Homo sapiens: one gene and its partners. The protein of the gene in region 1 purifies or fractionates together with the protein of each later gene. This does not show direct contact. Each region holds a gene or a part of one and is shown in the gene's direction. Other genes may lie near its edges.

The links.
Region 2: the proteins of WDFY2 (region 1) and MESD purify together in Homo sapiens (affinity purification with mass spectrometry; 3 studies listed by BioGRID and IntAct, with this or other methods). This does not show direct contact.
Region 3: the proteins of WDFY2 (region 1) and RBM17 purify together in Homo sapiens (affinity purification with mass spectrometry; 3 studies listed by BioGRID and IntAct, with this or other methods). This does not show direct contact.

What each region holds. Positions count from the first base shown.
Region 1 is NC_000013.11:51,762,354-51,765,384, forward strand, and holds part of WDFY2 (WD repeat and FYVE domain-containing protein 2), read left to right. Parts: 3' UTR 1-5; coding exon of another isoform or gene 6-29; 3' UTR 30-3,031. UniProt on the Homo sapiens protein: Acts in an adapter protein-like fashion to mediate the interaction between the kinase PRKCZ and its substrate VAMP2 and increases the PRKCZ-dependent phosphorylation of VAMP2.
Region 2 is NC_000015.10:80,983,195-80,986,851, reverse strand, and holds part of MESD (LRP chaperone MESD precursor), read left to right. Parts: intron 1-3,657. UniProt on the Homo sapiens protein: Chaperone specifically assisting the folding of beta-propeller/EGF modules within the family of low-density lipoprotein receptors (LDLRs).
Region 3 is NC_000010.11:6,091,955-6,095,611, forward strand, and holds part of RBM17 (splicing factor 45), read left to right. Parts: intron 1-3,657. UniProt on the Homo sapiens protein: Splice factor that binds to the single-stranded 3'AG at the exon/intron border and promotes its utilization in the second catalytic step. Involved in the regulation of alternative splicing and the utilization of cryptic splice sites.

The sequences.
Region 1 (3,031 bases):
CCCAGCCCACAGAGCCACTCAGAGGCTGAAGCCACTTCACAGCCCACTGGTGTTGAGAATCATCATCAGAAAACCAGATATGTCAAGGTATCCATTGCTCTTTCCTTTTCTCTCATCTGTGTGGGTGCTTGAATTTGGTGAAATGCGTTTAGCAAACCAACTGTGTGTTTGTAATACTGTGAATTCTTGCGTTTTGCATTAAGTGTCTCCCCCATTTTTGTAATTTGTAGAGAAATATGTGCTGGTGTTGGGTGTCTTCCAAGCATTTTATGGAAATGGAGGCTCCATTCCTTAGGAGTAAAAGCTGGCGCCAGCACTTGGCTCTTGTTCTGTCTAGGTGAACTCTCATAATTCTTGTTTTACCCTGTTGGATTTGCACTTTACATATATTTTTGCTCTATTACTTAAACATATAGCAGCTTTTACAAATAATGCCTAACATGCCTGCGCTGAGAAAGTGGCAGATCTACACATATCATACGCAGAGTTGTTCTCTACCTGATGGGGCAAAACCAACCACATGTTCTTGGTTCCTCCAAACGAATGACATTACTTGACATTACTGCCTGAGTGTATCTTCACAATAGCAAAATGGTTTGAGATTAAGCATTTGGAATCTTATGTCATTTTGTATGGGGTCAATCCACCATAACGTGTTTCTCATTTGGTTTTAATTATTTCCAGAAATCATAAAGTCACAAAACTGGAAGGGATCTTCAGAGATCTAGAGTGTTTCAAGCAGAAAACACATTAGTTATACAGGGCAGTTAGATATGGCTGAGATGTAAACAAGAGAATCTAAAAGAATGTTCAAGGAATAGCTGTTTTTGAACATTACTTAGTAATGGCATGAGTGGGAGGAGAGACTTTCAGCACCTTGAGACAGGGCGCTCTCTGGAACCAGCTTTGTTCCTCTTATCGAAAGCATATATGACAGTTTTTTTGGCTCCGGCCCTGTGGTGGGGGAGGTAATTATTGCCTTCATCCACATAAATTCCTTCCTATACATTCCCCTCAGACCACCCCAGAGGCAAAACTGAAATGGAAATCCAGTGGCACTTAAAATTCACCCTGCCCCGTTTGGCTGCGATTCCCAGGCTTACAGCACTGCCCTTATGGAATATCACATTTTCATTTTCTGAGATTCATTTTATAAAAGTAAAGGCCAGGTGCCATGGCTCACACCTATAATCTGAACACTTTGGGAGGACAAGGTGGGAGGATTGCTGAGCCCAGGAGTTCAAGACCAGCCTGGGCCACACAGCAAGATCCTGTCACTACCAAAAATTCAAAACTTAGTTGGGTGTGGTGGCACACACCTGTATTCCCAGCTACTCAGGAAGCTGAGGCGGGAGGATCACTCGAGCCCAGGAATTCAAGGATGCAGTGAGCTATGATTGCACTACTGCAGTCCAGCCTGGGCAGCAGAGCAAGGCCCTGAATAAATAAACAAAAGTATAATTTATTTTTGCCTGATATTAATCACTTCTTAAGGCCCAAATTTTTGTTTTTAAGCAAAAGGATAGCTCTAAGTGTGGGTTGCAGTTACTGGACATAAATATTCACTAAATGAGATTCCTTTGGTTATGGCTGTTCATAGAATTTTAATTCTATGTCAGTGTTCTTGTTCACTAAGATATTTCGAAGTGAGAGAAAGCATTTTACCAATACATTCTTATTTTTTCTCCTTTAAAATAATATTGAATTTTTCCTGGTACGAAGACAGATATTTATTAACTTGATTGGAAAACACAGAAATTAAGATCATGTTGAACACTGAGTTATCTAGATGATCCCTGAGATTTGAATGTTCATGTCAACCGTGTTGAGCGCTCACCAGCCACCAGGCTTTAGGCACTGGCAGTGCAAGGTGTCTGAGGCCCATTCTCAGGCTGGGCAGAGGTCACACAGTGAGTAAATGGGTCTTTTCAGTGCAATGTGGTTATGATAGAGGCATGCCAGGGTGCCACTAACCCAGCAGGTGTGGCAGGAGGGGCTTCACAGAGGAAAGGGACTTTGAGCTCAGTGTTAAAGGATGAGGAGTGAGTCATAAGGGGGAAAAATGGAAATGACTTTCCAGGCTTCAGAAACAGCATAAACAAACAAAGGCCTGAGAGCTGGAGTCAGTGTGGTGTGTCCAGGGATCACAAGTGGGCTGGAGCTGCCGGAGAACAGCCAAGTGGCTCAGCTGCCATCCCAGAATTGAGCTCGTCACTATCAGATGCTGCTGCTCCCTGGCCTCAGAGGAAAGCAGCACACAGCTCACCACGAGGGGTTTCCCCAGAGGCTCCTCCTGCAGCCAATGCTACTATTAGTTTATATTATAATAGTATCAGTTTCTTTTTCTTTGGAAATCCCTAGAACTGTTAACTGAAGGTGACTCAGGGTAACTAATTCTGGATCTTTGGGTGCACAGCCTCTCACTGGAGTCTGAGAGGAGGAGGTGGAGACTATCAGTGCACGGCCCGCAACCAGGAAGGACTCCCAGACTAACGCCAAAGGTGTGTTGGGCTCAGCTGCTCCACTGTGGAAAAGGAAAGCCCTGGCCCTGTGGCAGGAGAGGATTGTTCTAGTCAAGTGTGGCGTTGCACGGACAGGCGGTGCCGAGTGTTTGGGTGCAGACACAGGCAGCTGCTGCCCTCCACTTCCTGCTCTTGCAAGTCACAGATGATTCCAGTACAATGTGGGAGGTCCTCCTTACAGGGGCACTTGCAACAGGAAGGCAGAGAGTTTCGTCAATTCAGGTACAGGTCTGTCTGGGAGACCTGGCCCTGTGGAGGCAGGAACACCGTGCAGGGGCATGGCAGCGCCTGTCTTTGCTATCACATCATTTGCCTTTTCCTTGTAGGACCCAAAGATCTATGTCCAAAACTTAGTCCAGAAACATCTGCATTCCTGTTTAAACTTCAGCTCAGTTTCTTAACCAAGAACCACGTCAACCCTCCAGGGTTGTGGTTTGTATTTTTGCCTTTAAGCATTATCTCCTTTCCACCAAGAAGCCTACTTAGGTTTAACACATGAAAGCAGTGTC
Region 2 (3,657 bases), on another chromosome or scaffold:
AGAACCATGGGAGGAAGAAGAGGATTTGCAGAAAGGGGAGCTCAGCTTTGTAGCTACTGACTTAGACAAACAGTAATGAAGGAGCTCTAAAGCCAGTTGAAAATGCAAGACTGGCCTGGAGGCAGGGCTAGGACTGGAGTCAGGGGACTGCCTGACTTGTCCCTGGCCCCCCGCTCTGCCTCAGGGTAAAGACTGGATTGTTTTCAGCATAAACACACTGATCATAACAGGTTAGGTTACCCAGACTAAGGGTAGAACTGGATAATTATGTACATCTAGGGTACTATTTTTACACTTCAATTTTAACATATAATAATTATACATATTTATGGGGTACAGAGTTGTATTTCTACACATGTATAAAATGTAATGGTCAATTCAGGGTAATTAGCATATCTGTCTCCTAAACATTAATCATTTCTTTGTGTTGGGAACATTTAAAATTCTCTCCTAGCTGTTTGAAAATATGCAATAAATTATTGTTAACTATAGTCATCCTACAATGCTATAGAGCACTAGAATTTATTCTTCCTATCTAATGTAATTTTGTATCCATTCACCATCCTCTCTCCCTATCTCCCCTCCACTTCCCAGCCTCTAGTAACCACAATTCTAATCTCCACTTATGTGAACACAACTATTTTAGGTCCGCATACGAAGGAGAATGCGCGGTATTTGTCTTTCTGTGTCTGGCTTATTGCACTTAACATAATGTCCTCCAGGCTCATTAGGGTACTATTTTGCAATTTTCTTTTCTGTAACTGAAACACACACACACATATACAATGGAAATTAAAGCTGCTTTTTTTTTTAAGTCTCTTGAAACAATTTTTACCTGTATTATATGCACTAGACTTACGACTATTTAATTATATTTGCATTAACAAAGAAGTGCTGGACTGGGCTTAGTGGCTCATGCCTGTAACCCCAGCACTTTGGAAGACTGAGGCGGGTGAATCCTTCGAGCTCAGGAGTTCGAGACCAGCCTGGGCAACATGGTGAAACCCGTCTTTACCAGAAATACAAAAATAAATTACCCAGGTGTGGTGGCATGCACTTGTGGTCCCAGCTACTCTGGAGGCTGGGATAGGAAGATCACTTGAGCCTGGCAGGCAGAAGTTGCAATGAGCCAAGATTGCACCAGCACCATTGCATTCCAAACTGGGTAATAGAGTAAGACCCCATCTAAAAAAAAAAAAAAAAAAAAAAAAAGCTGCTTGGGACCTACTGAGTTAATTTCATGATTATTAGTGAAATCAATCTGAAAAATACAAATATTCTAGGGTATTGAACCAACTGGAAGTCTTGAAGTGTTTTAAAGAGACTATAACCGATGTTATGGAGAATTAAGATAAAGACAGAAACAACTTGTGAATTTGGCAACTAGGAGGTCCTTTGTGACTTGAGAGTATAATTTCCATGCAGTGATTGTGGTTGGAGGCCAGATCACAGAGGCCTAAAGAGTCAGCAGTGTCATAGCCAACAGATACAGTACTGAGTTCTGCTTGCCTTTAAGTCATTACATCCCCAAACAAACCTTAGGAGGGAGAAGCTGTTATTACCCTCAGCTTTCCATTATAGGTAAGGAAAGTTATTTTCAGATGGGCTAAGTAACTTGCCCAAGGCCACATAGTGATGGAGCGCATCCGTCTGACAGCACAGCCCATGCTCCTGTCTGCAAGTCACCATCAGTGGCTCTTTGAAAGCAAAGTGAGGAAGAAACATGTCAGTTGAGAGGGTGGCAGAGTGGAAAAGAAGGTTAGTGTGTTATGTGTGGTCATGTTACTGGGGCCTTGGAGATCACTTCGTTCTGCTTTTCATTTTGTAAATGAGGAAACAGGCCTCGAGGCGTAAGGATTCTTAGGCAGGGTCACACAGCTAGTTATGCAAAACTGAAACCAGATTCCAGGTCTGACGTCGGTATGGATCACCTTCAAGCACTGCGTAGAATTCTTTCGTTTTTACTTTTTACTAAAATTATTTTTAATATAGTACATTATTAATGGTATCTTAAGCCTTGGCCCTTCAGATATTGTTCAGTAAGAGTGACTTAGGGGCTTTTTTTTGTTTTTTGTTTTGGTAACAGGTTTATTGAGATTCAATTCACATGCCATAGGCAATTTACCCATGTAAAGTGTACATTTTAGTTTTAGTATCTTCAGAGAATTGTACAGTCATCACCAAACTCAATTTTAGAACATTTTTATCATCCCCAAAAGAAACCTTCAACCACTCCTCCCCTGTGTTCTCCCAACTCCCTAGCCAGCCCCGGGCAATCGCTTATCTACCTTCTGTCTCAACAGATTTATCCATTCTGGACATTTCCTATAAATGGAATCATAGAATGTGTAGTCTTTCATATCTGGCTTCTTTCACTTAGCATAATATTTTCATGTATCAATCAGTACTTCATTTCTTTTTTCTTTTTTCTTTTTCTTTTTGGTAGAGATAGGGTCATGATATGTTGCTCAGGCTGGTCTTTAACTCCTGTGCTCAGGTGATCTCCAGCTTCGACCTCCTAAAGTGCTGAGGTTATAGTTGTGAGCCACCATACCCAGCCAGTACTTCATTTTTTTTGGTTGCTGGCATTAGCCTTTTCTCCAAGGAACCTGGTTCTATTAAAGATTTTTTATTTGTCAGTCTATATGCTATTTATTAGGCATGGTGGCTAATGCCTGTAATCCCAGCACTTTGGGAGGCCGAGGTGGGCAGATCACGAGGTCAGGAGATCGAGACCATCCTGGGCAACATGGCAAAACCCCGTCTCTACTAAAAATACAAAAATTAGCTGGATGTGGTGGTGCGTGCCTATAATCCCAGCTACTCGGGAGGCTGAGGCAGGAGAATCGCCTGAACCCAGGAGGCAGAGGTTGCAGTGAGCCGAGATCGTGCCACTGCACTCCAGCCTGGTGACAGAGTGAGACTCCATCTCAAAAAAAAAAAAAAAAAAAAAAAAAGTTACTGTTTTCTATTAGTAATTTATTCATTTGTTTTGATCATTATGGGTTCAACATCTCATTTTGTTTGAGGGGTTGTAAGTCATACTATTATTTATTTTGATGTTGAGATTATTTCAACTTTGGCCCATGAGAGCTGCTTCAAGTTGGCTTCCATGGCATTTTGACATGTTCACGATTCTTTGAGCACTTTACTACTTTGTGATGCGGGATTATTCTAGGCTCATCTTCTGTCTCTCTTGCTATAAGCCTGTTCTCCAAGGAACCCACGCTCTTTTAAATATTTTTATCCATTAATCTGTTTACTCATCTGTTAATCTATGAAAAACCATGAGTTTCTCCTGATACCTTCAATTCCAGCCTAATACCACAGGGCTCATTCTTCCCCCTTTCATGTTTGTAACTTACTTCCCAGAAGTTAAGAACCTGGCTCTCATTACCCTCAATATGTTTACTCCTTTTCTCAATCCTAGAGGTCACATAAGATAGTCTCAGAATTGCTAGCCCATACCACTACAGAAAACAAACCTGCTAACTGGAATTGAATATTTTTGTACAATGCCTATTAAGTGAAATGGGTATACATGGAGTGCAGATTTTAAGTATACAGTGCAAAGAGGGAGTATTTCTTTTCTTTTTTTTTTTTTCTTTTAAGACAGGGTCTCGTTCTGTCTCCCAGGCTGGAATGCAGTGGCATAAT
Region 3 (3,657 bases), on another chromosome or scaffold:
TTTTTCCTGCCAGTTGCACATGTTTTAAAAAAATACTTTCCAGCTTGGGTGGAATCTTGAAAACTCACCATTCTTCCTTCTGGCAGAACCATGTTTGTTATGTTTCCTAAGAAAAAATGTAGCATATATGAAACGTGGGTTGCTCAAAGGGAAGTGTTGCCACAAAAAGGAAGGAAATAGCAAATATTTTAAAGTTATAAAAACCAGCAATTTGTATTTACTTTTGATCCTGGCTTCTTATGGTATATCCAGTTGTTACAAAGTACAGCTTTTTGTTACCTGGCAGCAGACCTAATGAAATAAATGTGTTATGTTGTCTAAGTAATAATGTCAACGTTAATTAGGGTAAGTTTGGGTCTTGGCAGTCTTATTAATGTACTTATTACATTTCAGTAGTTGCGGTGGGGAGAATTAATGAACAAACTATTGTATATTAAATGCTTAATATAGCGAAAATAAAGAATACACACTTTTTAAGGAATAGATTAACTAAAACTGTAAATAAAATTAACATAAAAGGAGGAAAGCAAGGAAATAATGAGAAGAGGATTCCGGGGAAATTACATGAATGGGTTGGGGGAGTAGTATGGTTGAGTGTGGTTTCTTAGTCTAGATCCTGTCTTGTTTTGGGTGGTGAATTCACAGGTGCTTGCAGCATTATAATAATTAAACAAAAGCAGGTAATAAGTGTGTGAATGGATGAGAGTGTGATGTTACTATGATTAATCCCATTCTGTGAACTTAAAATTCAGTGAAAATGAGAAAAACGAAGAAAGCACTTTTGCATTTGCTGTGATGCAGAGATTTGATTTTATAAGCTCAATGTTACAGAAAACTAGCAGGTGCTGGTAAGATGACATCAGTTTCTAATATTTAAAGCGTTTTGCAGGTTTGAGAAGAGAAATGAGGACCTTTAAATGAGCATGAGATTTGCTGCCTGATGATTTCTGAAACTTTTGCGCAATGCAGCAAATCAACTGGAATTGTCAGTCAGCCATCTTAAATGACATGGAATCAGAGGAGATGTGTGGTCTCATAAAATCTCATTAATTCACTATTTAATTTTTGCTAAATATTGAATCTATTGATGGAAGAACTGTTGGCAGCTGAGATCTAGTACACTGCTAGATTTTTAGCCTCAAAGTTTAGAGAACTCTTTTCATCAGAGTTGACTCTTCTGGGGAGGGTGAGGAGTGTTGCCTCCCTCTCTGGGGGTTACTTCCTTCCCTTATTCCCCAGTGCTGCCTCTTTGCCTATTTATTTTTTATTTTATTTTTTTGAGACAGTCTCGCTCTATCATCCAGGCTGGAGTGCAGTGGTGCAATCTTGGCTCACTGCGACCTCCGCCTCCCGGGTTCAAGCAATTCTCCTATCTCACCCTCTTGTCTCAGCTGGGACAGGACTACAGGCGTGCAGCACCACACCTGGCTAGTTTTATATTTTTAATAGAGATGGGTTTTCACCACGTAGGCCAGGCTGGTCTCAAACTCCTGACCTCAAGTGATCCGCCCGCCTCGGTCTCCCAAAGTGCTGGGATTACAGGCATGAGCCACCGCAGCCGGCCCATTATTAGTATTTTAATAAAGCTTATTAAATGCTTGCTATATGACAGAAATTGTAGATGCAAAAATAAATAAGTGAATCTTTCCCCTCGAAGTTTAATGGGCATTTGGTTAACCCATTTCTGGTGGCACTAACGTATTCATAAACACTTTCGGTAAAGTTCTCAAGTTATAAAGAGAAATGGGTTGAGTATCCCTTACCCAAAATGCTTGGGACCAGAAGTGTTTCAGATTTCGGATATTTTTAGATTTTTAGAATGCCTGCATATACATAATGAGATACCTTGAGGATGCGACCCATGTCTAAACACAAAATTCATTTATGCTTCATATATACTTTCTACACATAGCCTGAATATGCAATATATGTCATACTTTTAATAATTTTATGCATGCAAAAAGATTTCACTCTGTTTTTGACTGTGACCCATCACATGAAGTCAAGTGTGGAATTTTTTTTTTTTTTTTTTTTTTTTGAGACAGAGTCTCACTCTGTCACACAGGCTGGAATGCAGTGGTGCAATCTTGGCTCACCGCAAGCTCTGCCTTCTGGGTTCACGCCATTCTCCCGCCTCAGCCTCCTGAGTAGCTGGGACTACAGGTGCCCGCCACCATGCCTGGCTAATTTTGTTTCTGTATTTTTAGTAGAGACGGGGTTTCACCGTGTTAGCCAGGATGGTCTCGATCTCCTGACCTCGTGATCCACCCGCCTCAGCCTCCCAAAGTGCTGGTATTAGAGGTGCGAGACACCGCACCCGGCCTGGTGTGGAATGTTCTACTTTGGGGTCATGTTGTTGCTCGGAACGTTTTAGGTTTTGAAGGATTTCAGATTTTCATACTGGAGATAGTCTGTATTGAGAAAAGCAAATATCTAGAGTTTAGTTTGAGTTGCAAACAAATTTTGATTTATCTTTGTGATTTCCCAGAAAGTCGCATTGTTTATTTCTCAGAATCTGTTAGTATTCCCTTTCCATTTTAAGAATAAAGAAAGAACAGAAGAACCTGTAGTTCAGTAGGCTTTGGTTTGCTGACCAGTTGGATGAAGAGGGCTCAAAAGATTAAACTAAGTTAGATGAAAGGTGCATGGTCATTTCTGAAGAAATGTGTTTGGGAGCCACAGTGCTAAGCTGGACACTCAGCATGGTTTTTCTGTGCTGTTGCTCTGTTTGAGTTTTCTTAGATTAAAATTTAAGGGTATGTATCTAGATGTGAACAATGAGTTTTGAGTTCTGGGTAAGCTGGAAGAAAAGTGTACAAAAGCCTCAAAAGCTGTTTGGTGCAGTGTTGTTCCTTCTGGCCAGTGATTATTGGCCAGAAATTTCTAATTGAGAGGGCTTCGCAAATGGAGTATAAACTGCAGTTTGGCCTCATTTCCTATTTAGCTGTGGGTTGGATATTGATCTTAGTCTGGGGATAGAGCAGTGAACAGAACAACCTGGATCTAGGTTTTCTTGGAGTTCAGAGTTATTAAACTAGGCTCTGAAGTGGACATCAGGGGATTCCCTCCAAGACTTTGAGGACATGGTTATATTTCATCCATATTTCTTAAGGAATGGAGTTCATTATTTTTTCTTGATTTGGCCTCAGTGCTTCAGGCCTGTCACGAGACATCCCCAAGTTCCTGAAAAAGGTCAGTTTTGCACTGAAGACATCTATCAGGAGGAGAGTCTGTCTGCATCCCGGCATCCCTTCATTCTTTTCTTTTCTTTTTTTTTTGGCGGAGTCTTTATCTGTCACCCAGGCTGGAGTGCAGTGGTGTGATCTTGGCTCACTGCAACATCCATCTCCCGGGTTCAGGCGATTATCATGCCTCACCCTCCGGAGTAGCTGGGATTACAGGCACCCACCACCACGCCCAGCTAATTTTTGTATTTTTAATAGAGACAGGTTTTCACCGTGTTGGCCAGGCTGATCTCTTAACTCCTGACCTCAAGTGATCCGCCCACCTATGCCTCCCAAAGTGCTGGGATTACAGGCGTGAGCCACCGTGCCTGACCATCCCTTCATTCTTATGTGATTCATTTGAGCAGTCGGCCATCAATACCCCTGGACAGTCTGCTTTCCCTGCTTCTCTACGGCCTTGCGGGGACCTTTC